Homo sapiens: one gene and its partners. The protein of the gene in region 1 purifies or fractionates together with the protein of each later gene. This does not show direct contact. Each region holds a gene or a part of one and is shown on either strand. Other genes may lie near its edges. The genes, in order: GHITM, MFN2, POMK and PTPN1.

Region 1 (7,628 bases):
GCTAATAAATTTCCATAGTGAAGTTAGGTATATAGAAAGTACCAAGTTTCTTTAACTAGAGTTTTCTAGTGTAAAGGGATCTTGCATTTTATTTTATTAACGTTCTGTTTTCATGTGGGTGGTACGTGTCTTTGTTTGCATGTGTGTCAGGAATATGCCACCAAAACAAGAATTGGGATCCGGCGTGGGAGAACTGGCCAAGAACTCAAAGAGGCAGCATTGGAACCATCGATGGAAAAAATATTTAAAAGTAGGTGGCTATCTTTAGTTTTTAACCTAGAATCTATGGATATGTTTTAAGAGGTCCATGAACAACTTCCTAAAAATATATGTGTATTTGTGCATTTTCTGGGAAGACCACATTATTATTCTGAGATCTGACGACCCAGAAAAGATTGGTACTTTGCACTGGATTCAGTGGTTATCAATCATATTTCTTCCAGTGGAAATTTTACTTTCCTTTTTTTTAAAGAAAAGGATTATTAATATGCCATGGTCCAAAAGGTATACTCTGTTGAGAAAGTTCATTTTAAGTGTGTAGAATCCTCATTCAAGCATATAATATTTGTGTATGTTTCAGATTAAGAATAAATCACCAACACATAGATGTTAATAAAAGCCTAGCTGTCCAAGAAGAATCCTTTAACTCACTGCTCACATAGGGCCTCAGGAGGGCAGTACTTTAATATATTGCCAGTTTGGTTCAGTTTGGATATCAACTTTGCAAGTTCAGAAACTAGATTGTTAATCATCCTAAAGCTATTCAAAGAATACCACTGCTCCTTAATAATCTTGCAAAATGTCTTTACAGTGGGAGAGAGCCCTAATCAGTATCCTTCAGGTCATTTCTTTCTGATTTGACCCTAGAGACCAAATCATGCAAATTATGTAGTGACAGCCTAGTAATATTCTTAGTAAACGAATTAGACTAAAAGAATAAGATGCCCTTTATGAATACCTCTATTGAGTTAGAGTTGATTAGTTGCCTCTCAGTACCCTAAAACGGGAGCCTCCTCTCACTTGATTCTGCTGCATAAACACTGATTATATTTTCTCTTTTTTCTTGATTTCCACGTAAAGCATCATTTGTGTTAATACCATGCAGTATGGTATGACTGTTAACATTTCCTTCTCATTTTTTACTTTCCATGAATGTCATGTGAATATACTTCAACCTCTTATTAGTAAAATAATAGGTATCACAGAAGTAGCTCCACGTCTACAGGTATACTGCTCCCTCAAATATTGTTGGAGGGAGGTTGAAGATTCACCAAGCCTGATCCTTTCTTTTTTGTACTGATTTTTACACCTTTGTTTCAGGAGTGTTTTTTTCTACTGGTTACCTAACATTGAGGCAATTTCTGTACCCCATATGCACTGATTATGGCTTCTATTAAATATGGTACATGATTTGATTCCCTTGATAAATATTTTAAAGGCTTTGTCCAGATGTGCCAGTACTAACCTGCATTTCCTTCTGTGTTCTGCAGTTGATCAGATGGGAAGATGGTTTGTTGCTGGAGGGGCTGCTGTTGGTCTTGGAGCATTGTGCTACTATGGCTTGGGACTGTCTAATGAGATTGGAGCTATTGAAAAGGCTGTGTAAGTAAATTGTTTTAAGTAAACTGTTCCTAAACAACTCCAGCCTTAAAACAAAAATTCAAATTTTCTTCTCATTCCTATCTTTAGTCACTTTGGAATGTTTTGTGTCTAGTCTTTGTGTATACACACAAATAGAGAATCTCTTTTTGCTTCTTTGACATTTATTTATTCAAATCTAAATAAAAATCTTTTAGCAAGGTTATATGTGTTTAAGCAAAGAGAAAATATGAAATATGTTTTTTGTTTGTTTGTTTGTTTGTTTTTTTGGAGAGAGAGTCTTGCTCTATCTCCCAGGCTGGGGTGCAGTGGCGCGATCTTGGCTCACTGCAACCTCCGCCTCCTGGGTTCAGGCAATTCTCCTGCCTCAGGCTCCTGTAGGTGGGATTACAGGCACATGCCACCATGCCCGGCTATTTTTTGTATTTTTAGTAGAGACGGGGTTTCACCATTTTGGCCAGGCTGGTCTCGATCTCCTGACCTCAGGTGATCCACCCACCTCAGCCTCCCAAAGTGCTGGGATTACAGGCATGAGCCACCGCACCCAGCCAAAAATATGTTGTTTTTTATATGTGCTTGTATGTTTTATCTCATTTAGTCCTTACAGTAACTCCCAAGTATGCATAATTATCATAATTATTTCCATGATAAATGAAGTGAATAAGATTTAAAGTGTAAAATGATTTATCCCGAGGTCGCCCAGCTAGTGTGTGACTCAACCAGAAATCAAATCTGTAATTTCATAGATTAATCATGTCATGTTTCTTACAGAATTTGGCCTCAGTATGTCAAGGATAGAATTCATTCCACCTATATGTACTTAGCAGGGAGTATTGGTTTAACAGCTTTGTCTGCCATAGCAATCAGCAGAACGCCTGTTCTCATGAACTTCATGATGAGAGGCTCTTGGGTGGTAAGTCAGCTGTTTTTGTTTTCCTTTTTCATCTAAAGATCAAAAGATTAGATAAAATATATTGGAGGGAAGGGTTATTAAATGGAAAGAATACTGTATTGAACAAGTTTTTGTTCAAATAATGTATGAATTACAGGTTGAGCATCCCTAATTTAAAATCCAGAAATGCTCCAAAATCCAAAACATTTGTAGTGTCAACATGATGCTCAAAGAAAATTGTAGCATTTCACATGTTGGGTTTTTGAATTAGGGATCCTGAACCCTAACAACAATGAAGTGTAATGATAAATAGTCCGAAATCTGAAGTCTGAAACACTTCTGGTCCCAGACATTTCTGATGAGAGTTACTCAACCTGTATTAGTGCAGCTGAGATAAAAGTAGGAAGTTCATTCTAGGTAGGTCAGCTATTATTCTTTATTAAACATGTATTCGAATAATACCAGAGGAGTTAGAAATCAAACTTACAGAGACAACATTTTTGTCTAGCAGCAGATATCAGACAGCCTCTAATTTGTAGCAGTTTACTAAAAAAATAAAGCAAATGCAAAATCATCTTAGAAGTCAGAGGGAAATGCCTATGCAGTTAAGAGCAGAATAGTGCTGCTACTATTATTCCTAAGATTCTTGACCTTATAGAAGATTTTATATTTAATCGGTTTCTCTGGAGCCCTTGTTATTTTGCTAGATAAGAGAATTTGAATATGTGTCCCCTATTCTCCTGCTATTTGGTAGAAGAGATGAACTGGAATAAGTGGCACAGATACGCAATAAGAAAGTGCAAAGTCAGTTGAGAGTTTCTGTCTTGGACTGTTAGGCAAGTTCCGTGAAGGAGACATTTATTTCATCAGGGTTGTTGAAGGCTAACATGTCTCATTTATTTTAGAAGTAGACAAGAGGGCCAGGTGCAGTGGCTCACACCTGTAATCTCAGCGTTTTAGGAGGCTGAGGCAGGAAGATTGCTTGAGCCCAGGAATTTGAGACCAACCTGAGCAACATAGTGAGACACTGTCTGTAATTTTTAAAGAAATAGAAAATTTTAAAAATTAAAAAAAAATTTTTTTAAGTAGACAAGGGCGGTCCAATTTTACCAAACAGTTTAAGGGAAGAGGAGGTAGGAAAACCTAATTTCAGAGGTGACTTACAATCCCATTAGAGGGAAATTCAAGTGTTTGAGGTCTGGAGGGTAAAGAAGACGTGGTTAGAAAGGATACAGTTGTCAAGCTGAGGAGAGAACCTAAGCAGTCGGAGGCCATTGGAGATACTGGAACAACAAAAGCGTGATTTATATTTGAGTTTTTAGAACCAATGTGGAAGAGACATGGAGCAGGTGTACCAGCTGTGCCTTTGTAAGATCTGAAATGAGGGATGATAAGAACCTGAACTAGAGCAGAGTGTGATACTGGAGGGGAAGGAGAGTTCATGTAACACTGATTCCCCACATAGGGACGAAAACCATATTATTTTCACTGTGTTGTACTTTACTAAAGGATAACCATTTACAGTAGCAGCCATTTGGATATTTATATATTCTTAGGATCATGCTTTTTCACATAGACGTCATGAATCTCCCAGCCCAGAGGTTCACAAAGGCACAGAATGTTTCACTGGGGATGTCAGTTTTAATCAGAAGCAAATAATTTAAAACAATACTTTTGTAATAAACATGACAATATTTACCTAAAATTTTAGGCCCTAAAATGAGGCTTCAAAGAAGTTTTGTGTTTGGGCCATATCCTCAGTCCCTTCTGGGCAAAAGATTACCCTCTTCCACTGTTAGTAATACAGAAAATAGGAAAGCCAAAGACAAGTGTTACAGAGATGAAGATGTAACCTTTTGGGTGTGACAGACATATATATACAAACACACACATAGACACACAGATAATGTCAAAGTTTGTCCCAAGTGCATCTGAGGAGAGGTATCTGATCTTGCTCTTGGGCAGCCAGGGTACCTACTAGAAAAAGCTTTTGAGATGAGACAGTACCAGAGTAAGTCGACCAGATATGGAAGGAGATATTCTTAGGCATGATGGATTGAATTAAGGAGGCCTGAAATTTTGGGGCATGTTGGCAGCTGTGCCAGTTCCGTATGGTTGGAATGCAGAGTTTGGAGTGAGACTGGATCATAGAAGATCTTAAAAAAATTTAATTGCTGCTGTCCACAGAGGATGTGTGAAATAGTTTGTAGTAATTATTTCTCGTTAGAAAATGGTGGAGTGGAGCTCGATATGCTTTTCTTTTCTTTTTAATGTTTTTTAAAAATAGAGACTAGATCTCTATGTTTGCCTAGGCTTGGCTTAAATTCCCAGGCTCAAGTGGTCCTTTCACCTCAGCCACCCAAGTAACTGACATTACAGGTCCATACCACTACACCCAGCTCAGTATGCTTTTTCATGTTAAGGTTTTCCCATTCTTGGCAAAACCAGCTATTTGGTTTACCTGTACTTTATATTAGAGGTTGAATATTTTGATGTTCATAGGTGAGACAGATAATACAGATGAGTGAGGAGGCCTAGTGTGTCACACAGGAGATTGTTGACATCTAGAGGTTACTGACATCTAGAGTTAACCTTTTCAACTAAAACCATTCACCATGTTCTTTTTTTTTGTTTGTTTTTTTAAACATAGTTTGCCAAACAAAACATCTGTGGCCTGATTCCAAGGGCTACAAGTTTGCAATCTCTGATTTAAATTTCTTGGAGATTAGCACCATCTTATTTCCATTACATGTTAATACATTCTTCTTGTCATACACAAGCAATATTTAATTATAACACTGGAAATCTAAGATAGGCAAAGAAAAGGAATGAGGACCAAATTAGCCATAAACCTGGAAGGGTAGAAGTGTAGAATCTTATTTCTCATTTTTCTTTTCCATGTGCTGTGATAATCTACTTTCTATTTTTCAAGTCTTCATTTAGCAAATATGGAGTTCAAAGTGATGTGCTATATATATTTTTTTTAAAAATTACTAATTTGTAAGCATCACTGATTTTAAAGAAAATGCTATTTGTGCTATACAAAAATATATTTTTTAATTAAGAGTTAATTATCTTGGGATCCCTAAAGGGTTTTTGTTTCACCTCTGTCCAACAAGAGTAAAATTGTTAAAAGATGTGTTGCCAGTTCAAGCTTAAGACATGCATTTGAAGCTGTCTGCAAAACCTCATATATGGCAGTAGGGGGCACTCGTGCTAACTTAGCCAAAACTCTGAAATAAACCCAGAGCTTTTAATGTGCCAGAAAAATTAAAGTTTTTATTTTTTATTTTTTATTTTTTATTTTTTTATTTTGAGATGGAGTCTCGCTCTGTCACCCAGGCTAGAGTGCAGTGGCACGATCTTGCCTCATTGCAACCTCCACCTCCCGGGTTCAAGTGATTTTCCCACCTCACTCAGCCTCCCAAGTAGCTGGGACTACAGGCGCGCACCACTGCGCCTGGCTAATTTTTGTATTTGTAGTAGAGACAGGGTTTCACCAGTTAGCCAGGCTGGTCTCAAACTTCTGACCTCAGGTGATCCACCTGCCCCAGCCTCCCAAAGTGCTGGGATTGCAGGCGTGAGCCACCACGCCTGGCCTTAAGCTTTGATTTATTATCTTTAATATTTTTACAACTAGTTTATTAGAAGTAACTAATTGTACTTCAAACCTGTGGGTTTCTGCTTTGTTTTCATATAAAGATCAGTTTTTCTTAATAGTACTTGTCTTTCAGACAATTGGTGTGACCTTTGCAGCCATGGTTGGAGCTGGAATGCTGGTACGATCAATACCATATGACCAGAGCCCAGGCCCAAAGCATCTTGCTTGGTTGCTACATTCTGGTATGTTCTGTTTTAAATTGTTACGAGACAACCTTGACTACCACCTTTTTTGGGTGGCTCTTCACAGTTGTAAATGACCTACATGGAATTTAAGCCTCATGTTTAGAAAACACCATTTTCTTCAGTCATTACTGGCTGCATTATTGCCAGACCTTTGCTTTGAAAAGTTGATTTTGCTAAGACCATGGACATCTTCAATACGAAACTTGTATCTTCTGACAGTCTAGTATATGCAGAGATTTACTTTTGTGTATTTTGTTCGATACCAGGAGGGTTTTATATCTAGTACGCATCATTTGAGAGTTGTTTTTGTCTGGTATGTTTAGAAAAATTAAAAACTGAGGATAGAGAAAGTTGTGCTAAAAATGTTGCTGCGAAATAACAAAAAACTGAGAGGAGTCCTAATAGAAGTGTTCTGTGTAGAAATTTCACCCACTGTTTTGCCTAGAGCAAAAAGTATTTTTAAATTATTCATCATCATGAGATAGTATACCTTATTAACCATATAACTTGATCTAGAAATGTTATTCTTTAAGCTAGTATTGAAAATTCAGTATAAAGATAGCTTTGTGCCTAGTCTATGAGGTAAACGACATTTAAGAAAAAGGTAACTTATTCTTCTTAGCACTGAAATAATGCATTATCTAAGTTTTTTTTCAATTAAGGAGTTCCATTTACCTTTGTTGAATTACTGGTAAATTTTTTACGAAATTGTTTATAAATATCTGACAACTAAAATTACTTATTTATAAGCTGTTAGCAGTCCTTATTACATAAAGAAACAGCAGTGTCTGTCTTAGAAGTTCCCACATTTTAAGTTTATCATCATATGCTTTCCCTTTTGACAGCAGTAGGTTTGACCTTGAGTTATTTGTTTTAAGCTTGTTTATCTCAATTATTATATGAATGTTGTAGAAACTAGTGGTAAGCTCAGATTCAAATAGCTACATGGAATTTGATGGTTACTAAATAAGTAGATTAGTGTTTGCTTGTGAGTGTGATTGATTAGGAATAGTGTTAATGTTGTGATATAGAATTTGAGTAGTCACCAATTTGGGCTGTAGAATTTGGTGGGGGTAGTATTATCTAAAGGCAGAACTTTTTGAATCATAGTGCTTAAACAGTAAGGTATAATATAAAGTGGCATGTTAGAAGTGATATTTTCCTTTTGCTTGTTATTTAGTAAATACTTAATGAGCACTTCCTCTTTCTCCAGGTGTGATGGGTGCAGTGGTGGCTCCTCTGACAATATTAGGGGGTCCTCTTCTCATCAGAGCTGCATGGTACACAGCTG
Region 2 (7,628 bases), on another chromosome or scaffold:
ATGTACCCAGAACCTGAAGGTATCGAGTTGAATCATCATGAAAAGTGACAGATAAGGAAAGTCCTGATTTCTTTAGCTTGGCCTCCGCATCTGATCTTTGGGCAGCCCAGGGCCACAGCTGCCCAGTTCCCCATGGGCACTAACCTATCATGTCCTGCTGCATGGTCTGCAGGGAGTTGGTGATGGCCGTGGAGCAGCGGTCAGACATGTTTCGACCCAGTCCTTCCTCTATGTGGCGGTGCAGCTCCTGCCACCAGAAGAGGGAAGTTAAGAGAAGCATGTCCATCAAAATTCCCTTCAGGCCACATCCACCAGGTGACCCCAGAAGGCTGACGGAAGCCTGGGCCTTGTCTCTGTGGCTTCTACTGTCACTGCTGGGGGGCCCTGACCCAGACCAACAGGGGTTGAATCACTTTTGGGGGCCTCCTGCCAAGAGGACCTGTTGCTCCATGACTCACATTCTTATAAACCTTGAGGACTACTGGAGAAGGGTGGAAGTCCATCTGGTAATCGTCCACCAGTACAGAGAGGCGCCTGATCTCCTCGGCCATTGCAGTCGACACCTACAGCAAAAGGAAGCACACTGTTAAGTATCAAGGAAGACCAAAGTTCACTCCTGCAGCACCAGGAGAGATCCTAGCAGATGGCACATCCTTCCTCTCAAACCAGCAGCCTCCTCAGCTCCTCTATGGAATTAAAGCCTCTGAAGTGAGAGGGTCTGGGAAACTGGCTGATCAAACGCCCACATGATCTGTGGAGGTCCAGAGGAAAGGGAACATGCCCAGCATCACACAACCCGACAATGGAACCCAAACGGCAGCTCTGTATTCTTGAAACAGGGCCACAACTTTCTTCTGAAAGGCTGAGAAGTCCCTAAGAGGAGGAGGTCTGCTTTCTTCTGGACTCTACTCGGAGTCCAAATCTTCCCAGAATGCCTCCTCCTCATTTCTCACCTGCCTCTCCACTTCCTCCGTAATCTGCTTAATTCGCAGCTTATAGTCTTGAGCCAAGAGCTCCAGCTGTTTGTCAATAAATTTCAGTCGGTCTTGCCGCTCTTCACGCATTTCCTCGCAGTAAACCCTGAAAGCAGAGTACTGGTGAGAAATCCATGTTCCTGTCTGACTAAGCAGAGGAGCAAGAGGGGATGCCAGAAATCCCACGCCGCCCTGCCCGCTATCTTGCCTGGCAGGGCTGCACACACGCACCCAGGGGCATGGCCTTCCCCTTCCCAGGTAAGAAGAGGACCCTGCAGCCAACCATGCACTCTTCAGTCTTCGATGTGGGTCAGGTGGTGGGCACAAAACAGGGAGGGCGCTTTAAGGGGGTTTAAACAAATTCTGCCAATTAATATAGGGAAAAAAGCTCAACCTCACTAGTAATCACAGAAATGATTTTTTTTTTTTTTTTGAGATGGAGTTTCACTCTTGTTGCCCAGGCTGGAGTGCAATGGCACGATCTCCACTCACTGCAACCTCCACTTCCTGGGTTCAAGCGATTCTCCTGCTTCAGCCTCCCGAGTAGCTGGGATTACAGGCATGCGCCACCACACCCAGCTAATTTTGTATTTTTAGCAGAGACAGGGTTTCTCCGTGTTGGTCAGGCTGGTCTTGAACTCCTGACCTCAGGTGATCCATCCGCCTTGGCCTCCCAAAGTGTTGGGATTACAGGCGTGAGCCACCATGCCCAGTTGTAAATGAAATTTTTAAAGGCACTATTTTCTACCAAGGCCTGGCAAAAATGACCAGGTCTGAAGTTCTGGTGAGGGCTGATGAAATGGAAGGCCTATGGACAGTACTGGTCATGCAATGAATGGGTACGGCTGTTCTGAAGAGCATCAAGAAAACTGACTAAAACTGGAAACGCGTGTACCCTAAAACAGAATTGCCACACCCCTAGGAACTCACCCCAGGAAGACTCTTAAAAAGGTGCACAAGGGGACACATGAACAAATGTCCACTGCAGTAGGGTTTCCAATAGCAAAAAAAAAATCTAAAATTCCATCCATAGGAAAATGAGGCATATTCACAATGGAATATACTACAGCAGTTCCGATTCATAAACAAACTACACATACTAACAAGGATAGAGGGAAAAACGATGTTGAGAAAGCAAAGCCAGGTACAGTGACAGACAGTGTGATGCCACATCTGTACATCTGAAGCATGTAAAAACCTGACATATTCCTCAGCATTTATGTAAAAAGTACTGTTTGGGTGATAGAACAATGTAAATTCATGATTATGGTGCCTCAGGGCAGAGTGACACTGGGACAAGTGCAAAAGAATCAAAAGGGAACTGAACTTTTTAAAATTTTAACTTAACATAAACAACTGAGAAAGTCAATTCTGTGTGATAGAAGCAAGGTGTTTTCATATTATTCTTTAGTGACAGGGTCTCACTCTGTTGCCCAGGCTGGAGTGCAGTGGTGCGATCACAGCTCACTGGAACCCTGAACTCCTGGGCTCCAGTGATCCTCCTGCCTCAGCCTCCCAAGTAGCTGGAACTACAGGTGTGTGCCACCACACCCAGCTGATTTTTAAAATTCTTGTAGAGATGGGATCTCACTATGTTATCTGGGCTGGACTCCTGGCCTCAAGCAGTCCTCCTGCCTTGGTCTCCCAAAGTGTTGAGATCACAGGTGTGAGTCACTGCTCCTGGCTGGAATGTTGTTTTGAAAAATGTGTTCAGGCTCTGAGAATGGCTGCAGAGCTCAGCAGGGCATGGGCCAAGACCTCCAACACAGGGAATCGTGCTGCACAGACCAGGTGGGGTGATGAAGCACCCAGCCGCCCTCCTCACCAGGCTGTCTATGTGGTTCTAACATGGTCTGGTGGCCAGGGAAAGGGCTCTGGATGGGAGCCCAGAGACTCAGCCCTGCCATCAAGGCGTGTCCTAACTGCCCAAGGCAGGGGTGGAGCACCCTTGTCTCGGCAGCTCTCTCCACCTATCTGCAGTCTTGGACTCTTACTGCTGCTCCCGAGCCGCCATGTGCAGGGAGTCCATGATGAGTCGAACCGCCTCTGCAATCTGCTTGGCCCGGACCGTGTGCTGCTCAAACTTGGTCTTCACTGCAGACTGGGAGATGCACTCCTGGAACACACAGAGGCACGGAGGGAGGTGGGGGCCACCAGGGGCCTACAACCAAGGGCCAGACTCTGGTTTTCACTGCCAGGGACACAGCCAATGGGAGCTGGGGAGGCACAGAATCGCCAGATACCAGAATCAGAGGACTCACCTCAAATCTCCTCTCAAAATTCTGAAACTCAAACATCCTCACTTGAAAGCCTTCTGCGAGAGCGCCCCCTAGGAGGATTGTACTGCATTAGTCCAGAAACAACTTGGCAGCAGAGGAAAACGATGAAATCCCCAGAAACCAAGCCACTGGCTAAAGAGCAAGAGCCTCTCTGCTCTTCTCAGCATCCCCTTCTCAGAAGGATTTTCTACTGACAGACTCCTCAGCACGAGACAAAATGTCTCAAACATCAGAGAAAAGGAGGACATCTGTTCTCATCATTACCTCCTTCAGGCATGCCCTGGGCTTTCTGAATCCTGGCGTTGAGCACCTCCTTAGCAGACACAAAGAAGATGCGGTCCCCGGCCTGGGATCGATCCACCACGCCCAGCTCATCCACCAGGAAGCTGGTACAACGCTCCATGTGCTGCCGCCGCACCTGGAGCCCAAACAAATGTGTCCAGAGTGAGTGTAGGTGGCCCCACAGCCCCCACCTGCCTCTTTTATTAAAAGAATAGGTCATAAGAGGCTGGGCATGGTGGCTGACGCCTGTAATCCCAGCACTTTGGGAAGCCAAGGCAGGTGGATCACTTGAGGTCGGGAGTTCAAGACCAGCCTGGCCACCATGGTGAAACCCTGTCTCTACTAAAAATACAAAAAAATTAGCCAGGCATGGTGGCAGGCGCCTGTAATCCCAGCTACTCAGGAGGCTGAGGCAGGAGAATCACTTGAACCTGGAGGCGGAGGTTGCAGTGAGCCAAGATAGCACCACTGCACTCCAGCCTGGGCGACAGAGTGAGGGAAAAAAAAGAATAGGCAATATATTCACATGGCTCAACAGCCAAAGGCACAAACACATACACAGTGTAATGTCCCCCACTATTCTGCTCTCTCACCACCAAGTTTCCCAGACCAACGTGTGGGGGTTACTTGGCAGTGAGCGTGCCAAAGATATTTTATGCATATACAAGCAGAAATGCTTAAACGTGCCCTAGACTGCCTCTTGTTAAGCCTATATAGTGCCTCATTTTGGTGCCCTGGCAGGAAAGGAACCCTGAGGTCAAGAAACCTAAATCTGGGACCTATACTCTGACAAGCTGTGTCCTCCTGGGGCATTGTTTATAAAAGGAGTGGGCATCACTAGAACATCCCTCCTGGCTCTGACATCCTGGGGTTCTACCGATAAAATGTGACAATAGCTTCTTGTAGACACCTACCACGTGTCAGGTGTTTTTGACAGATTTCATCCTCTCAACAAGTCTATTTATCACACCATCACACTGGCCAGGAAATTGGATTACCAGAAGGGTCAAGGAAGCTAACAAAGTCACACTGCCTAGTGTCAGTCACAAGCGGGCACAGTGGCTCACGCCCGTAATCCCAGCACTTTGGGAGGCCGAGGCGGGCGGATCACTTAAGGTCAGGAGTTCAAGACCAGCCTGGCCAACATGGTGAAACCCCATCTCTATTAAAAATACAAAAATTAGCCAGGTGTGGTGGCGGGTGCCTGTAATCCCAGCTACTCGGGAGGCTGAGGCAGAATTGCTTGAACCCTGGAGGTGGAGGTTGCAGTGAGCCGAGATTGTGCCACTGCACTCCAGCCTGGGTGACAAGAGCAAAACTCCATCTCGAAAAAAATAAATAATTTGGACTCTGGCCTACTGACTGCAACTGCATGTTTTATCATCCCATATTGCCATATTATCAATCTTATTACCCTTTATTTGTTTAATTATTTTTTGTGAGACGGAATCTCACTCTCTTGCCCAGGCTGGAGTACAGTGGCACAATCTCAGCTCACTGCAAGCTCCACCTCCCGGGTTCACGCCGTTCTCCTGCCTTAGCCTCCCGCGTAGCTGGGACTACAGGCGCCTGCCACCATCACACCCGGCTAATTTTTTGTATTTTTAGTAGACACGGGGTTTCACCACGTTAGCCAGGATGGTCTCGATCTCCTGACCTCGTGATCCGCCCACATCGGCCTCCCAAAGTGCTGGGATTACAGGCGTGAGCCACCGCGCCCGGCCTACCCTTTATTTTTTTGGAGATGGCGTTTTGCTACGTCGCCCAAGGTGGTTTCAAATTCCTACTCTCAAGGGATCCTCTCTCAGCCTATAGGTGTGCACCACCATGCCGTTTGTTACCCTTTTGTCTTTCATTTCACATATTTAAAGAGTTGTGAGGCCAGGCGTGGTGGCTCATGCCTGTAATCCCAGCACTTTGGGAGGCTGAGGCAGGTGGATCACCTGAGCCCAGGAGTTCAAAACCAGCGTGGGCAACATGACAAAACCCCGTCTCTACCAAAAATACAAAAATTAGCCAGCCTCATAACCCAGTCTCTAAATAAATAAGTAAATAGCTAAGAGTTGTAAGTCACCAGTAAGAACCAGTTATTCTCCATTCCTCTTTCCAGCCTCTTTCCCAGAGGCCTCCCTAGAGCTGAGCCTGTTCTGTATTAATTCCTCAGAAACCAAACTGAGCACCGGCACTGAAGATGCACTAATGCAGCAGGGATCCTTTTTAGGCCTAGGGGAGAGTGGCTTGAAGAGGGGGTGCATCCAGCAAAGTGGATGGGAGAGGGGAAAGACCACCAGAAGATACCACAGAAGAGTATTTGGAGAATTCTTTGGCAATAAAATTAATTCAGGGAAGTCACTAGATCCAGGGGTGCAGGAAGTGGCCCCAGTGGCAGGCAGTGCTCCCTCGGGGTTGCATTCCCCAAACTGCCAAACAGAAGCACGAACCTCCTCCATGTACTCGGGCTCTGAGGCAGATGCATCCCAGCGGTTGTTCAGGATGAAGATGTTTGGCCGGGAGAGACGCTCACTCACCTTGTGGAAGAAGTGCTTTTCCTAGATAAAGGGTAAGACCTCGGTGGAGCAGGAGCTTGACAGCCAAGGCCCCATCAGCTGCCTGCCCAGGGGGTGCTGGGAGCTTGGGAGAAGGCAGAGGAGGAGTTACCGTCTGCATCAGGGTGGACTCTGAGTTGGCCACCAGCACAAACACATCAGCATCCAGACAAAACTTGTCAATCCAGCTGTCCAGCTCTGTGGTGACATCAATACCAGGGCTAAAGGTGACAGGGGTAAACCAAATCATCAGGCAGAGCAGGAGCCCTATTCTTCCTGCTGAGAACAGACCTGGGACTTGTGAGGCAGGCAGGTCATGGAGGAGAAAGCCAGGGACGGGAGAGAAATCAGGCCTGGCCCTCATTAACGGATTTTACTTCCCATTTCCTATCCTTCCAGATTGCCTGGAAATGAGTGTTTTGTTTTGTTTTGTTTTGTTTTTGGATATAGAGTCTTGCTCTGTCGCCCGGGCTGGAGTGCAATGGCACGATCTCGGCTCACTGCAACCTCCGCCTCCCAGGTTCAAGCGATCCTCCTGCCTCAGCCTCCCAAGTAGCTGGCACTACAGGCACGCACCACCATGCCCAGCTAATTTTTTTGTATTTTTAGTAGAGACAGGGTTTCACCATGTTGGTCAGGCTGGTCTCGATCTCTTGACCTCCTGATCTGCCCGCCTCAGCTTCCCAAAGTGCTAGGATTACAGGCATGAGCCACCGTGCCTGGCAGAAATGAGTGTTTTTAAACACATATATCTATTGCTTTTATAAAAACAGAATTACTTGTAATTCTACTTTAAAGATGATATACCAGGCGGGGCACAGTGGCTCATGCCCGTAATCCCAGCACTTTGGGAGGCTAAGGTGGGCGGATCATGAGGTCAGCAGTTCAAGACCAGCCTGGCCAACATGGTGAAACCCCGTCTCTACTAAAAATACAAAATTTAGCCAGGCATGGTGGCGGGCACCTGTAATCCCAGCTACTCCAGAGGCTGAGGCAGGAGAATCACTTGAACCCGGGAGGCGGAGGTTGCAGTGAGCCGAGACTGCACCACTGCACTCCAGCCTGGGTGACAGAGCAAGACTCTGTCTCAAAAAAAAAAAAAAAAAAAAAAGATGATATACAATTAAGGTGAAGTTGTGACTTGATGTGAGTCCAGATAAACACTACAATACTGTACATGTTGGTATAGTTATAACCAGTCCACCAAGCCAAGGCAAAGTGTTTCTTCAAGGGAAATAAAATACACCTCTGACTCCGCCACAACTCCCCACCCCCAGTACACATGCTGGCACTGGGCTGAGATTGAGAACCTCCCCCACCAACTTTTGAGCATCCCTCCTATCTTTTACAGACCATCCCTGGGACATCTGCAGGGTACTGATAAATAGGTATAGTAACCAGACTCCAGAGGAAAGCCAAGAGGCCAGAGGATTTGGTTGAGCCCATCTGAAAGGTAGTAATACTTAAGCAGAGCAAGGATGGGGCCCAGGGACCCTGGCCTAGATTATCCAGAAATGGAAACCTGGTGCCTTCCAGTTTGGACCTCC
Region 3 (7,628 bases), on another chromosome or scaffold:
GGAGGACACTGTGTTAAGCGAAATAACAGGATGACAGCAATCGCAAATGAACCCGGACTCACTCTCTTTACAGCTCCTTCCCCAACACGCTTCAGCTGTCTCACTTCTGTTCTCAGCTCCTCGCAGGACAGCCAAGGTGAGCAGTTTTTCATCTGTCCTATCCTGAAGTGACCATAGGGACAGTGTGTGGGGTCCACAGTGGATTGTCGAGGAGCGATGAAGAAGTGGTCGAGGCAGAGGTAGAGCAGAGTATTCATCAGGGCCATGATCAGCAGCAGCCCAACAGCTGGCGGCACCTCTCGGGGGGCGAGGCCTCTCCTGCTGTTCTGGGGCTGCTTTTCCATGTTGACGGCCTCTGCAATTTCCTAAAATACACAATGAAACAAGAAGTCATGACAGTCAGCTTTCACTTCCTTTCATTTCCAAAAATGTGTTCTGATGCCTCTTCTACTCAAGGGTCCTGTAAGCTGCAGCGTTACCGTGGGGATTAAAGCAGGTATCGAACACCAGGCTTATCCCAAATGCCCAATGTTAGCTGTTTCCATAATCATTACTTTTTATTACAAACTAAAATGCGGGTTCCTCTAGATTAGGTTAGGTGGGAGGTGTTTGTGTCTGACTCTGTCCGACTCACAGTAGCATGCATTAAATAGATGCTCATGAATATTCAGTAAAATGAAAGCAAAATGTATTAGTCAACTGGTGGGACAGGGACAGAGGGTGGACAAAGGACAGCAGAAGGAGGCTGCTTAGGGTAGCAGGTGGAGGCTGGGAAGCTGAGGGCCTCTGTCGAACTCAGCTAAGCAGCTGTCCTGTTCCCTGGGAGGTACTCAGAATCCCCTCAACAGTTTTAAGAAATAAAAGCTACTCTTCAGCAGTTATGAAAGGTAGATTTGGGGTGAAAGAGACTGAGGCTGGGAGACCAGTTATTAAGAAGCCCTGGTTATGACCACGGACAGGAGCTGACAAGTACATGAGCTAGAATAACAGCGATGAGATTGGAGAGATGACCACTCAGATGTCACACCAGCGATAAGTAACCACTGATAATGTGTGGGCTCTACCGCTGGAGCCGTGCAAGGCCATGGTGGAGGGGCCTGGCTGCGGAGAAGCCTGAAGTAGGACCGTGGATGGCAGAGGTGATTTACAGAAGCAGAATGGAGCAGAATGGAAGTATATGGAGACTTTAACAGTGGATGTGGCCATGCCAGTGGGAGCCAGCTAAACAGCACTGGAATGCTGGGGCACTGGGACAGAACTGGGTCAGAGACAGCTGTGACATGCAGGGTTACCTCCCAAGCGCATCTCCTTCTCCAGCTCAGGTCTCCATCCAGGTACCTGGTCAGTCCATACTCTAGTTGGCGCCCAGGGACTGGTCGGGAAACACCCTGCCACAAAGTACCAAACAGGAAGTGTGTAAACAGAAACTGCAGCTATGTACCCAGACAAATCGCCATAGTCCAAACGGTCCAACTTTCCCAGGGCCCTCCTCCTGCCTCAAGTCCAGGTTTCCTCAGGTTCTCAAGCCCCAGGACAGAGCAGGGCCGTGGGGAAGCCCATCAGAGTCTCTCTGTCCCAGTCTGCTCTCTTCTTCTCCATCACTGACTTCCAGCTGCTCATTCCCGCAACATGTCCTGAGCAGCTTCTATGTGCCCAGCCCTGCAGTGGGTGCTGGAGACATTCACACACAGTGAATTACACCAGCATGGTTCCTATCCTGCTGGAGCTTAGGGGAAAAGTCTAGTGGGGAAGACAGACAATAAACAAGTAAACAAATAGGTCTATCATCATCCTGTGATGGGGGTTCAAAGATAGAGAGTAACTGTGTAGGAACTCCCTGGAGGAAGCATCCCAGGAGACCTCTCTAAGGAGGTGACCTTCACACTGTGACTAGAGGCCTGAGAGGAGCCAGCCATGAAAAATCCAGGACAGGAAGCTTGTTCCTACCTCCTCCTTGAGAAAACAAAATCCACTCCCATATACAGAGCTGGGACAAGACGTCAATGAAACCACAAAGTTAACAGGAAACGGCATTTCTCCTTAGAACACACTGCAGCCATAAAGTGTCAAAAACCCCCTTTGGATGAAGACTCCTTTTTTACTACCTAGAAATTCTGTTCTCTACAATCACAGACTACCAGAAATTTTGCAGTTTGAAGTCTTATCAGTTGGGATAAAACATCCCATGCTTTCCTGGAGGATCAAAGTCACTCTGACACACAGAAGCAACCTCAGTTCCCAAACAGGGCAGACCTTCAGATAAGGAGTTTCTGGAGATAATCCTGCACATCTATGTTAACCTGGTAGTCTCCAAGGAAAGAGGACCACTTTGCAGTCCAGACTAGATCTTGGCCCCTTTACACTCAGTTCTACATGGCTTTGAGCCCATCAAAACACTACTTCATTTAAATTTGCCTAAACTTTACTCATCTCCAAAATTCTATGATTTTCTTCCTTTTTTTTTTTTTTTTTTTTGACATAGGGTCTGACTCTGTCACTCGGGCTGGAGTGCAGTGGTGCAATCATAGCTCAATGCAGCCTCAAACTCAAGCAATCCTGTCACCTCTGCCTCCTTAGTAGCTGGGACTACAGGTGCGCATCACCACATCCAGCTAATTTTTGTATTTTTTTTTGTAGAGACTGGGTCTCACGATGTTGCTCAGGCTGGCCTTGAACTCCTGGCCTCAAGCAATCCTCCTGCGTCAGCCTCCCAAATTGCTGGGATTACAGGCATGAGCCACTGCACCTGGCCTTTTAAATTTATTTTTATCCCCTCCACGGCTCTACTCATCCCCTGCATCAGTATTCCCTGGAACCTCAACACATTCCAGTACCCCACAGATGCAAGCACACAAGCTCATACTGTTCTGGCGCTCTTGAGCGTACTCCAGACCTCACACTGCTGACTCTCCCAGCAATGGCACACACTTCAGTGCCTCTATGGCTCTAAACCCACAGTAGCAGCCTCTAGAACGCCTTAAACCATCCGGCTGCCCCTTCCTAGAGTGTCCTCGTGCTCAGGGACACACGTGCACCTCACACCAACTTGACCCTTAGCGCACCGGGCCTCTGACGGTACCAAGACCCTTCCCGCACCACCACCACCCCCTACCTCACAGAGATCCACAATCCTCATCCCCGCTAGCACAGGCTCAGGTCTCCCACCGTCCTCCCTCCATCAGATCCCTCCATGAGGTCCCTCCAGCTCTGTTCCATTAGCATGCACTGGGCTCCAACTACCCAGACCTTTATTAGCGCATGCACACACCCACCACGGCACAACCCCCACAAGCGCACACCCAGCACTTGAGTCCTTCAACCACCTCCCCTCCATAAGCACCCCATTCTCTCCTACCCTGCAGGCCCCCACAGACACACACACAGCACTAACACCATACACACCCCCATCACCACACACGAGGCCTCAGAGGCCTATTAGCACACACCCTGGTGCCTCTACCACACTATCCCCCATTAGCACACACACTGGGCCTCTCTCCAGCCATAACCCCTATTAGCTTGCTTTGGAACTTCCTCAACACCCTACCCCTGTGATACACCCACGGGTCCCTCACCCGCTCTGCTGCCCACTTCCCTAAGCACACACTGGGCCTTGAGCCTCACCTGCCATAAGGCTCATCACCACATGCTCTGAGCCCTGCTCAGCCCAGGCCCCCATTGGCAAAGCTCCAGTCTCTCCCGGCTCCACCACCCATTCCCATATCCTCTGTTCCTCTGACCCCCTGCTCCCTATTTGCACTCATGGCACTTCCATCCCCAGCTCCCTGCCCCGGGCCAGGTCAGAGAGGCCCCGAAGGACTCCTGCCCTGTGCCCTCTCAGATGACTCTCTGTCCCTCTGATGAAGATATGCAAGTCCCGCCAGTATGCAGCCTCGCTTATTGCAGTGAGTCAATAAAAGTGATAGGTGTGTCCCGAGTGGCCTTAGGCTAGCTGGAAGCTCACACTCTCCTTCTCCAAACATGTACCACCTGTTCCCCCACCTTCACTCTCAGCTGATCATCTAACGAGATCATCCTATTTTACTAGAAAAACAGAAGCAATCAGAGAGCATTTCCACCAGTTCCCAAGCCCCACCCCAGGTTCCTGCACTCTCCTATTACTACAAACAGTGTGTTACCATGAAACTGGCCCCGAGCCCAGCTCAGGCAAACCCCACGCCCAGCTCTGTCCTCTCATTCTCTCCAACTCACTGCCACTGCACCCAAACTGACCTTATCACAGTCAGCACAGGTGGCCTCCACATCACTAAACACAACAGTCAAAGCACAGCCCCAGTCTTCCTTGATCTATCAATAGCATCTACCGTGATTGATAACTCCCTCCTTAAACGCCTTATATAATTGGTTTCCAGGAAACTACATTCTGGCAGCTCCTCATCTCTGAGTCCACGTAGTGGGGTCCCCCAGAGTTCAGAGCTCAGGCCTCTGCCACACTCCCTGGGAGAGCTCACCCAGACTCAGGACTTTTCATCGCTGCCTGCTGACAACTTCCAAAGGTAAAACTCCATTCCCAGCCTCTCCTCAGAACCCAAGGCTTGCTTCCTTGACATCTCCATGTGGATGTCTGGTGAACAACTCAAAAGATTCAAAAAAAACAACTCAATTTAAAAATGTGCAAAGGGTCAGGCATTGGTGGCTCACACTTGTAATCCCGGCACTTTGGGAGGCCAAGGTGGGAGGATCGCTTGAGCCTAGGAGTTCCAGACCAGCCAGGGTAACATAGTAAGACCTCCTGTCTACAAAAACTAAATTTAAAAATTAGCCAGGCATGTTGGCCTGTGCCTATAGGCCCAGCTACTCAGGAGGCTGAGGTGGGAGGATCATTTGAGTCCAGGAGACCAAGGCTGCAGTGAGCTGTGATCGTGCCACAACACTCCAGCCTGAGTGACAGTGAGACCCTGTCTCAAAAAAATAAACAAATAAAATTTTTAAAATGGGCAAAGGACTTGAACAGACATTTCTCCAAAGTAGATACACAGATGGCCAACAGGCACATACATGAAAGATGCTCAGCTTCACCAGTCATCAAGGCAAACGCAGATCAGAAGTGTGACAAGATGGCATTTTACACCCATGAGGATGGCTATAATACAAAAATCAGTAACAACATAGGGGAATGTGGAAAAACTGAAATCCTCAAACATCACTGGTGAGAAAGTAAAATGCAGCCACTGTGGAAAGCAGTCTGGCCGCTCCTCAAAAGGTTAAGCACAGTCACCACACGACCCAGCAACTCCACTGCCCAGTATGTACCTATGAAAACACACACACTCACACACACACTCATACATGAATGTTCACGGAAGCATTATCCACAACTGCCAAACAGTGGAAACAAGCCAAGTGTCCATTGGCAGATGAATGGATAGACAAAATGTGGTACATCCATAAATGGAATATTATTCAGCCATAAAAAATAAAGCACTAATTCATGCTGCAACATGGGTGAACCCTGGAAACATCATGCTCAGTGAAATAAGCCTGACAAAAAGGCCACATGCTGTAAGATTCCATTTACATGAAATGTCCAGAAACAGCAAATTCAGACACAGAACATAGATTTGTGGCTCCCAGAGGCTGGGGAGGCAGGGGGTGGAATAGCTGCTGACAGGGATGGGGTCTCTTTTTGGCTAAAATGTTCCTGAATTAGACAGTGATGATGATTGTACAACCTTGTAAATATGCTAAATATCACTGAATTGTACACTTTAAAATGTCAAATGTTATGGTTTGTGAATTATATCTTCCTTGAAGTCTCCCCCTAACATTTAAAAAGATAAAAGCATTCCCAGCTCTCAGGCTACGCAAAAACAAGCAGAAGCTGTGGTTGGCCAAGCCCTGCCTTAGGTGATGGCATTCCTCCAGGTCTGCCAAAGACCCAGGTAACCTCACCCACACCTGGGACACTAGCAGCCATCTGAACTCTGCTGCTTTCTAAGTCTGCACTGCAGCCCAGGTCTCTCCTATGCTTTGCTCACTGGCCTATCAAGGTATGGGATGTCCACTGCAGAACTCCCCAGTCCCCACAGGCCCCTCCTCCAGGGTTCCCTCTGTCATGGGCTCATGACCCAACCACCCACTCAAGTTACAGACCAGGTGTGTGTGACTTGATTCCTCCCTCCCCTAAACTCTAAACCAACCGATTACCACATGCAGTCAATGCTCCCACCAAAACCTCCCTCACAACTGCTTGCATATCTCCTTCCTTGCTGCCCTTCCCCTCCACCCCGCTGCGTGAGCCAGCAGCACCTCTCACCTGGGTTTCCACAATAGATTCCCAAGCAGACGCCCAGTTTTTCCTCTCTTGCAGTCCATTCTCAGGATTACACAGCAAACAGGATCCTTTTTCTTTAAGTGTTTCACACACAGAGAAAAAAAAAATCATAAGCATTCATCCAGCTTTGTCAAGTCACACTGCATCATTTTTTCAGATCTTTTTTTAAAGAAATTAAATATTACAAATAGAGTTGAAGACCCTCTGGACTCCTCCCCATCCAATTCTACTCCCCCTCAAGAAGTGATCACTATCTTCAAGTTGGTGGACATCAGAGATTCTCAAACTGTGCTCCCCAGACCTGTGGCGTCATAGCCCAGGAACCTGGGAGAAATGCAAATTCTTGGGTCCACACTCCAAACCTACTGAATCAGAAATGAACATCTGTGTTTTAATAAATCCTCTAGGTGATTTGGATGCATGCTAAAGTCTGAAAACCACTGGTGTATATAATTCCTATACATGCTGTCTATCTATCTAATCGATCTTATCTATTTACCTACCTACTTATCTATCTACTTAAGACATGGAGTCTCACTATGTTGCCCAGGCTAGACTCAAGTGATCCTCCTGCCTCCACCTCCCAAGCAGCTGGGACTGACTACAGGGATGGGTTACCAAACTCCGCTTCTCATACATGCTTATTTTCACAAGTATGTGCCCATAAATCATACATATGTTTTCAAGCTTTATACAAACAGTGATGGGCTGGTATTATCCTCCTGCAACCAGTTTTTTTTAAAAGCTCAACATTACATTTCTGAGATTTATCCATGCAGATGCACAAAACTCAGTTCACTATTTTCAACTGGTTTGACTTTTCCACAATTAGTGAGACAAGCTGTGTATACATCTCCCCAGGCATACATGGAAGTTTCTCTGATACATGCAGGGAGAGCTTTCTTTTTTTTCTTTTTTCTTTTTTTGAGAAGGAGTCTCACTCTGTCACCAGGCTGGAGTGCTATAGCACAATCTCAGCTCACTGCAACCTCTGACTCCCTTGTTAAAGGGATTCTCCTGCCTCAGCCTCCTGAGTAGCTGGGATTACAGAGCTGGGATTACAGGCACGTGCCACCATGCCCAGCTAATTTTAGTATTTTAATAGAGACGGAGTTTCACTATGTTGGCCAGATGGTCTCAATCTCCTGACCTCGTGATCCGCCCACCTTGGCTTCCCAAAGTGCTGGGATTACAGGCATGAGCCACCATGTCCGGCCCATGCAGGGAGAGCTTTCTAAAGCACGGATCTGATCCCACCTTGCTTAACATTCAACAGCCCCCCACTCGGCCCACAGGATCAAGTCCAAACTCTTATGTGGCCTCCTGAAATCTA
Region 4 (7,628 bases), on another chromosome or scaffold:
ATTTTTAGTAGAGATGGGGTTTCACCATCTTGGCCAGGCTGGTCTTGAACCCCTGGCCTCGTGAACCACCCACCTCAGCCCCTCAAAGTGCTGGGATTACAGGTGTTAGCCACCGTGCCCGGCCGTTAAAATGTATTTTAAAATTGAATAAGAAGCAAGCATGCCAAATGCAAGTTTTCCTTTAATCCTTGAAGGTGTGGGTTACCGCCCACTGACACCCTCCCTCACACCTGCTCACCTCTTTCACAAGGAACTCATTCCAGCCTTGTGCTAGAACAGACAGCTATGGCTGAGAAAAGCCTTTTAAAAACAAAGTCTGTTGGAGCAAACAGATCCTAACATCAAAACCTCTGAGCTGGCTGTATTCACTCTGCCAAGCAAAAAGCGCACAGCTCTTCTGCTCTGTTGAAATTCAGTTTCCCTCAACAAGCAAATAGTTTCCCAGAAGTCACTCTTAATGTCAGGCTTGCAAATGCTAAAAAGCATTCTTTTAAAAGGCTACTGCATAAATCCTCTAGCACATTCCAACACACTGCCCATGTTACTCCTGAGAATCTTCCAGAAAGCACCTCCATCCACCGTACTCAGAACCCTCTGCCCCATCAGGGCTATGGCAGGGCTGGTGACTCCGGCGCGGTCACCACCAGAGGGCAGAAAGCACTCACATCAGCTGCACTGCTACCATCCTCAAGAGCCAGGCAGCCCGAACCCCTTGCCTACGTCCTGGTAACCTGTGCTACATTCTAGATCTTACTTCTACTATTTTTTTTATTTATTTATTTTTGAGACAGGGTCTTGCTCTGTCACCCAGGCTAGAGTGCAGTGGTGCAAGCATAGCTCACTGCAGCCTTGAACTCCCGGGCACAAGCAATCCTCCTGCCTCAGCCTCCTGAGTAGCTGGACTATAGGGGAGCACCACGATGTCTGACTAACTGTTTTTGTTTTTTTGTAGAGACGGGGGTCTCACTATGTTGCCCAAGCTGGTCTTGAACTCCTGGCCTCGAGTGATCCTCCTGGCCTCAGCCTCCCCAAGTGCTGGGATTAAAGACGTGAGCCACCGCACCTGGCTTACATCAACTATGAAATGAATGGCAGGAGCCATGATGATTAAAAAGTAGTACTTGAGAAGGGGAGGCATGGGGTAACCCAGAAGCAGATCCCTCCCCACCCACACAGCCCTGGAGCCCCACTCCACATGGTCTCCCTACGGCTCCACCTTCCCTTCAGATAAAGCCCGTGCTACACACCCATGGTAACTGCTAACCCTTCCCGTATAGGACCTCCCAGAACCCTCGCAAAACCTGAGTTTGACAGAAGAGGAAACGGAGACACTGTGATGAGCTAGTAAGGTGGGGCCAGGATTCGACCCCAGTTAGGTTCTAGAGGTTGGTGGCTGGCCACTCTTCACTGGTGCCCCCAGGTGCTGCCGCGCACTCCCTCCACTGTTCCCCAGAATGACATGAACACCCCCAAGTTACGGATCCAGGGGAATTATTCCAAAGCCCCAGGAGCAGCGCGTTCAGCGGCAGTGCTGCTTGCCACAATGCCTTGCCATGTTCCAAGACCAACTTTTACCAAGCAAGTAGCTGGTGTTATAAACTCTTCCCACAACAAAAAAACCCAAGACCTGGCCCAGAAAACTTTCACTAGCTATGAAACTGGAGTGAGCCCCTATACCCCTTCTTCCCTCTCTTCAGACTCGAAGACTGAGGACCACAAAGAAGGCAGCATGCTTCACTGGGACTTGCAGGCTGCCGCTCCAGTCCCTCTGCAGCTGCACAAGCAGGAACCAGTCTTTTGGGTAAGAAACTCTCCTTTCCCTAAGAACTGGTGTTAACTGTTGTTAAAGGTCAGAGAGAGCACTGTGGCCTCCACCCTCCCTGGGCACTTGGTAGGTACACAAGTAAGCTCCGCTCACCACAGTGCCCAAACCACATCTTGCTCGGGGTATACAAAAGCCAGGAACACTGACATTAGGTAATATCACCCAAGGGATAAAGGAAGAGGCATGTGAACCAGTAGCCGCCTGAAGTGCTGAAGTGTGTGCTATACTCACTGTAAGGTTTTCCAATTCTAGCTGTCGCACTGTATAATATGACTTGATATCTTCAGAGATCAATGTTAATTTCAAATTTGTGTCTTCAAAGATCATCTCTTTTTCTTCTTTTTGTGGCCAGTATTGTGCGCATTTTAACTGGGGAAACAAATAATAGTGAATTATTGTGAGCAATATGGCAGTTTTTCTATGGCAGGAGGCTTGGAGCACATCCCACAAGCTTCATGATAACTCAAAGGCCTGGGGGTTTCTGAACATGGAAGCCATGGTCAGCACAGATGCCTGCCTCATGGGGAGATGGGGGTGGGGGCACGAAGCTGCTGACCGGGGCAGGTTGTGCAGACAGGGCTCAGACTTCCAAACCCATCGGCTCCCCGGTCAAACGTGGCAACGGGATCCTGCAGGGCTCTGACGCTTTCTCACCGTCTACGAGGTGAAGCCAGATTGAACAAAAGGCTTTGAAACTCCTCTGTGTAGCCATTTCAAACATTACCCAGGACCTGATCAGGCTGCTGGCATAGAATGTAGGTGCCTTACCCTGCACAGAAAACTCACAGGCAATTAAAAATAAAACTGGGAGAGACAGCAGGTGAGGCCCTTTGGAGAGGCTGAGCAGTTATCACCAAATACAGACTCCCTTTCAGAGAAGGCTTGGAGACAGGCTCCCCAGGGCTTGCCCTTTCATTCTGGTTTGGTTCAGTTCATTCAGAAAAATACTTTTGATGTTCTATTTTGATAATCTCAGACACTATCTGATGTTCTCAGTTTAAATGTAGCTCATTAAATTTTTCTTTAAAACAAGAAAATTTATGAAAATTTGGTTTCATTTAGGGTCTAAGACAAAAACTGACTCGAATTTAGTGACATTTTACTTGAACTAAGTTTCTGCCTCAGTTACACAAATGTTTCTGCTCATGGATAACTGTTGTGGACAAAAATGGCAGGTCAGCAGGGGCAGAGCTACCGGGTCAGCCTGACCATGTGCCTGGACAGAGGGAAGCTCAAAGCCCTTATGATTTTCAGCAAAAGAAATGTCAGCGTGTGTCAACAGCTCTTTGGCAAATGACACTGGCAGTTCACGTGCACTGACCCACTCAATACCTCCTCTGGGGCAAAGGATGGTGTGGGTGAAGGGAACCACTTCAGGGCCAGCTGTCTGTCAGAAGACACTGCTGTGCCCAGCAGTGACAAGGTGGACTATGGGGGAGGGCTGAGGGGGAAATGCTACGGACATGCAGCAGGAATTCAGAAGAGGGAAATGTTTCAGGTCAGCCAAGGTTACAGAAAAGAGAGATCAGAGAAAGCTCTGTGCAAGAGGCAGGTTTTGAAGGATGACTAGGATTTCCTAGGCAGTGACTGCAAATAAGAGGCTGAAAAGAGCAGCTGGAGAAGGGGCCAGCAGAGGCCCAGATCACAGACGACTGGCAGCAGGCCCAGGGACCTGTGGCATCATCTGGGGGCAATGAGGAGCCAGGAAGCACGTGAGGAGGGTGAATATAGAACCACAAATGCCTATTGGTCCTGCTCTACTGGAGCTGGAAGCTGCCCAAAAGACAAAACCAAAGCAAAATGTGGGAGAAACAAATTAGGAAACACCAGGTTGTGGTGCCAGCATCACAGCAAACTTCACAGTGCCAGACCAGAAGCCAACAGAGCTTTCTCAAGAGTCTGGACACAAGCCTGTCTGAAGTCTTAGCCAGTTTCATCCATGTCACCTTCCTGGATCAATGATGAGTTGCCAAAAGTGAACTCTTGAATGGGGACAATCTGTCACCATTGAAGCAATTCTGCCACTTGGCATGGAGGCGCTAATTACATGGCAAGACCCCCACTTAGCCAAAGTGGGTGTGGCAGCTAAAAGCAGGAACTTAGAAGAATGTGAAAAGATGAATTAATCCCACACTTCTAACAACTAGATCTTATAATGCCTCAAGACCCCAGAAACAAGAGACTGATCTGACAGGTTCCACCCCACCCGTGCTGGGGTGGGCATTCCACAGAGTGAGCAGACAGAGAAGGAAGCGAAGAACAGAAATGCAGGAGGAAGAGGCCACCCTTCCTCATCTCATAAGCAGGGCAGACGAGTCTTAAAGCTCACCTCCAGACAGCAAGCACTCACTTTCAAAACCAAACCTAATGCTTAATAACCCTCTGTAATCTGGGTAAAGACTAAGACTTTGGAACTGTACAAGTGAGGAATTCTGTCATGCAACTAAGTGTCAATAACCCAATATTTATTTTTAAGGACTCTCAGGTGTCTACAGCAACAAGCTATGCTCTGTCATTTCCAATAGAAATTTTTGTTTTAAACACACAAAATTTTTAAAAGGCACAAGATCACATTTCCAGTTACCCTATTACATTGATATATACGGCCATGAAAAGTAGATGGATTTTTATTAGAACACAGTACTTCACCAGGCCTCAAATTGAGTCCTATCTTGGGCTGGTACCAGAGGAACATGGCAGTGCCAACATGCTAGCATCTCTCATAGTTGCTGTTTCCACCATGAAGGCAGATGTTAAACAGTCCTTGGGGCCTTCCCAAACAAGTGGGCAAGTGGTGTTTGGAAAACCTATGAAAGACATCTACAGTAACCCTGTGACGGGTAATTTGGTTTCGCCAAAAATTATTAACACAGAGAACTAAGTAAGTAATTCTTAACACAGAGAACTAAGTACGAGAGAAAAATGAATTATATGGACCCTGTGATACAAAATGCAGTGTCTTGTGCATGAAAGCACCTGAAAGCAAACGGCAGCTTTAGTGAGGATTTCAGGAGGGAGATACGGGTGAGATTCTGCAATGGCCAATTAAACTCACCTTGCTTACTTCCCCCTTCTAAACAACAATCCCAACCCTTACGCCATGGTGCAGCCTACACTGAGGTGTCTAAAGTCAATCCTTAAACAGAACCAGTGAGAACTCTAGCCATCTGGATGACCCCAGTCTAACACACACAATCATCTTCTGCATAACTGGTTTCCAGGAAGCCCAGGGTCCCAAAAGATAACAGGCATGTTTGCCAAAAATAAGAGGGAGCATCCTACACTATTTGGTGAAGGAAGGAAATCAGAAGACAAGTATGCATTAAATGAAAACTCCCCAAAAGCTGGTTTTACCACAAGCTGTGTGGATCATTTATAATTAGATTAGCTGAGCAAATAAGATACTGTAACTTCTCATGATTTCTCCCAGCCAGCCCTCTGGGAGGGATAATGCTGATACAGAATTGAAAATGTTGATCCCAAAGAAACTTTAACAATCTCAAACCATACATTGCTTTTCATGCCAATCTGCACGCCCAAGTAATCCTCCAGTGGAATGGGATACTTAACAAAGGAAAGCAGGGACTGCTGGCACAGTTATCACAGTAAACTACAGCAAAGCCAACCAGCCATGTTCTCGATGCCACCACAGTAACCCAAAGGGAAAGGTTGTCACAGTGGATCTGTGGGCCATTTGTGGTCAGTCTTGAGTGGGAGACAATGAAGCACAGGGCCTGGTGAGGCTGGAACACATAACTACAGCACTGGACACTGCTCAAATACATAACTACAGCGCTGGACACCACTCCTTGCTGTAATGTGACAACAATTGCTAAAGCAAACCTTGTGCTCACAGCAAAGAGGTTTTGCCAAACACTTAGCAACAAAGAAATAAATAAGAAGCAAATGCTACTATATCTGGTAATTTCTGAATAAATGTCTTGATTTAAAATTCCCAACCCTCAATACCATCTAGAGCGGTGGTTCTCAACCGGGGGCAATTTGGCCTACCAGGGGACGTTGGACAAAGTCTGGAGTCTAGACAGAAACACATCTGACTGCCACATCTGGGGAGGGGGTGCTACTGGCATCTGGTGGATAGAGGCCAGAGATGCTGCTAAACTTCCTACAGCGCCCAGCACAGCCACTCCCTGCCCGGATCCCTAGCAGACAATGATCCAGCCCAAGTGTCAGTAGTGCTGAGGGTCAGAAGCCTGCAGATGGAGCTATGCTGAAGGCTTCCACAGGCCACCAGGCTTCCCCTTCCCTCTAAGACAGTGTGTGCTGTGAGCACCTGATGCTTTGTTTCTTTACTCAAAATTGCTGACTAGTGGTGAAGGGTGGGGGTTTGCTTCACATTTGTAACTTCACATTTTACTAATCAAGCTACTAAGGAGGGAAGAAAAAATTTAAAAACCACCTTTCACTGAAAAAGTTTTTTTCTAAGACAAGATACATTATATCATCAACAGAACACTTAGGCAAGCTCCCTGTCTGTTATTGTTGGGCAAATAAACACTTTCATTTTTTAAAAAGTAGGCAAGGGTAAAAAACCCCCAAAAAACCCCAACCCCAAAACAAAACAAACCAAACCCCTATGATTTTAAACACGCGCTGTCCTAAGAGGAAGACTTTCTGCGAGTAACTAAAGCCGTTTCTTTGTGTGTGGTGGAGGCAGAGGCTTCGTGGTTAATGCTTCAAGTTTTCACTGCTGAAGTTTCCTTTGATGTGTTCCTTCTTAACACTTGGATTTTTTACATTCTAGGGCCATGACTGTGCTTTTTTTGGAAAGGTGGCCTCTCTGGAGCCCTCACCTTCTTCTGTGGCCGGAGGCAACCAGGACAGCTGTGAGAGCCGTGTCCTAGCTGAGCCTGGACCTGGCAAGGCCCAAGGACACCCAGTTCCCTGCTCCTGGGCCACACGCTCCTGCTGGTCTCCACGATCCTCAGCCCATCTCCTCCTGGACCCCGCAGCAGGGTTGGCAGTGTTGGGGAGCAGCGAGGGCAGGGAGGCCGAGGAGCCTGTGGCCCTGCTGAACACTGGCCTGCGCCTGCACAGGCAGATGGTCTAAATGGGATGGTCTACACAGGATGGTCTACACAGACAATCTACACAGGACGGTCTACAGAGACAGTCTACACAGGACAGTCTATACACGACGGTCTACAGAGACAGTCTACACAGGACAGTCTATACACGACGGTCTACAGAGACAGTCTACACAGACAATCTACACAGGACAGTCTACACAGGACAGTCTACACAGACAATCTACACAGGACAGTTTACATGGACAGTCTACACAGGACAGTCTACACAGACAATCTACACAGGACAGTCTACACAGACAATCTACACAGGACAGTCTACACAGGACAGTCTACACAGGAGGCCGGCTGCCCAGAAATCGGCTATTCTCAGCTATTCCAACAGAGTGAGGAGGGCAGGGGAGAATGCAGGCAGTTGGGGAGCTGGGGGCAGCCGTCCAGGGGTGCCTGCAAGTGGGATGAACGTGGGCACTGGGACTCCTCGGCCCAGAGAACATGGTAAGAAACTAAAAACAGAAAACTTTGTCCTGGCTAAAGTTCCAAGAGTGGTGAGAGGTCTGTGTCCAGGGGCCTAGGGCCAGACCTGCAGGGTTCCGTAAGCCACACCATGTATTATCCTGTGAGGCAAAGGGAACCGCACAAGGGTTTTCAGCTGGGAAGAACCGTGGTGAGACTTGGATTTGAGAAAGCTCATTCTGAAAGCATGGTACAAAATGAACTATGGTAAGTCAAGAAGGAGAGGTGGCTAGACCCAG

The links.
Region 2: the proteins of GHITM (region 1) and MFN2 purify together in Homo sapiens (affinity purification with mass spectrometry; 2 studies listed by BioGRID and IntAct, with this or other methods). This does not show direct contact.
Region 3: the proteins of GHITM (region 1) and POMK purify together in Homo sapiens (affinity purification with mass spectrometry; 5 studies listed by BioGRID and IntAct, with this or other methods). This does not show direct contact.
Region 4: the proteins of GHITM (region 1) and PTPN1 purify together in Homo sapiens (affinity purification with mass spectrometry; 3 studies listed by BioGRID and IntAct, with this or other methods). This does not show direct contact.

The regions. Positions count from the first base shown.
Region 1 is NC_000010.11:84,142,505-84,150,132, forward strand, and holds part of GHITM (growth hormone-inducible transmembrane protein), read left to right. Parts: intron 1-150; coding exon 151-250; intron 251-1,490; coding exon 1,491-1,602; intron 1,603-2,370; coding exon 2,371-2,512; intron 2,513-6,225; coding exon 6,226-6,334; intron 6,335-7,550; coding exon 7,551-7,628. UniProt on the Homo sapiens protein: Plays an important role in maintenance of mitochondrial morphology and in mediating either calcium or potassium/proton antiport. Mediates proton-dependent calcium efflux from mitochondrion.
Region 2 is NC_000001.11:11,997,444-12,005,071, reverse strand, and holds part of MFN2 (mitofusin-2), read right to left. Parts: intron 6,303-7,628; coding exon 6,194-6,302; intron 6,085-6,193; coding exon 5,977-6,084; intron 3,672-5,976; coding exon 3,518-3,671; intron 3,304-3,517; coding exon 3,236-3,303; intron 3,091-3,235; coding exon 2,969-3,090; intron 1,081-2,968; coding exon 954-1,080; intron 564-953; coding exon 459-563; intron 248-458; coding exon 145-247; intron 1-144. UniProt on the Homo sapiens protein: Mitochondrial outer membrane GTPase that mediates mitochondrial clustering and fusion. Mitochondria are highly dynamic organelles, and their morphology is determined by the equilibrium between mitochondrial fusion and fission events.
Region 3 is NC_000008.11:43,096,265-43,103,892, reverse strand, and holds part of POMK (protein O-mannose kinase), read right to left. Parts: intron 6,370-7,628; 5' UTR 6,278-6,369; intron 1,389-6,277; 5' UTR 1,293-1,388; intron 366-1,292; 5' UTR 345-365; coding exon 63-344; intron 1-62. UniProt on the Homo sapiens protein: Protein O-mannose kinase that specifically mediates phosphorylation at the 6-position of an O-mannose of the trisaccharide (N-acetylgalactosamine (GalNAc)-beta-1,3-N-acetylglucosamine (GlcNAc)-beta-1,4-mannose) to generate phosphorylated O-mannosyl trisaccharide (N-acetylgalactosamine-beta-1,3-N-acetylglucosamine-beta-1,4-(phosphate-6-)mannose).
Region 4 is NC_000020.11:50,569,083-50,576,710, reverse strand, and holds part of PTPN1 (tyrosine-protein phosphatase non-receptor type 1), read right to left. Parts: intron 2,195-7,628; coding exon 2,057-2,194; intron 1-2,056. UniProt on the Homo sapiens protein: Tyrosine-protein phosphatase which acts as a regulator of endoplasmic reticulum unfolded protein response. Mediates dephosphorylation of EIF2AK3/PERK; inactivating the protein kinase activity of EIF2AK3/PERK.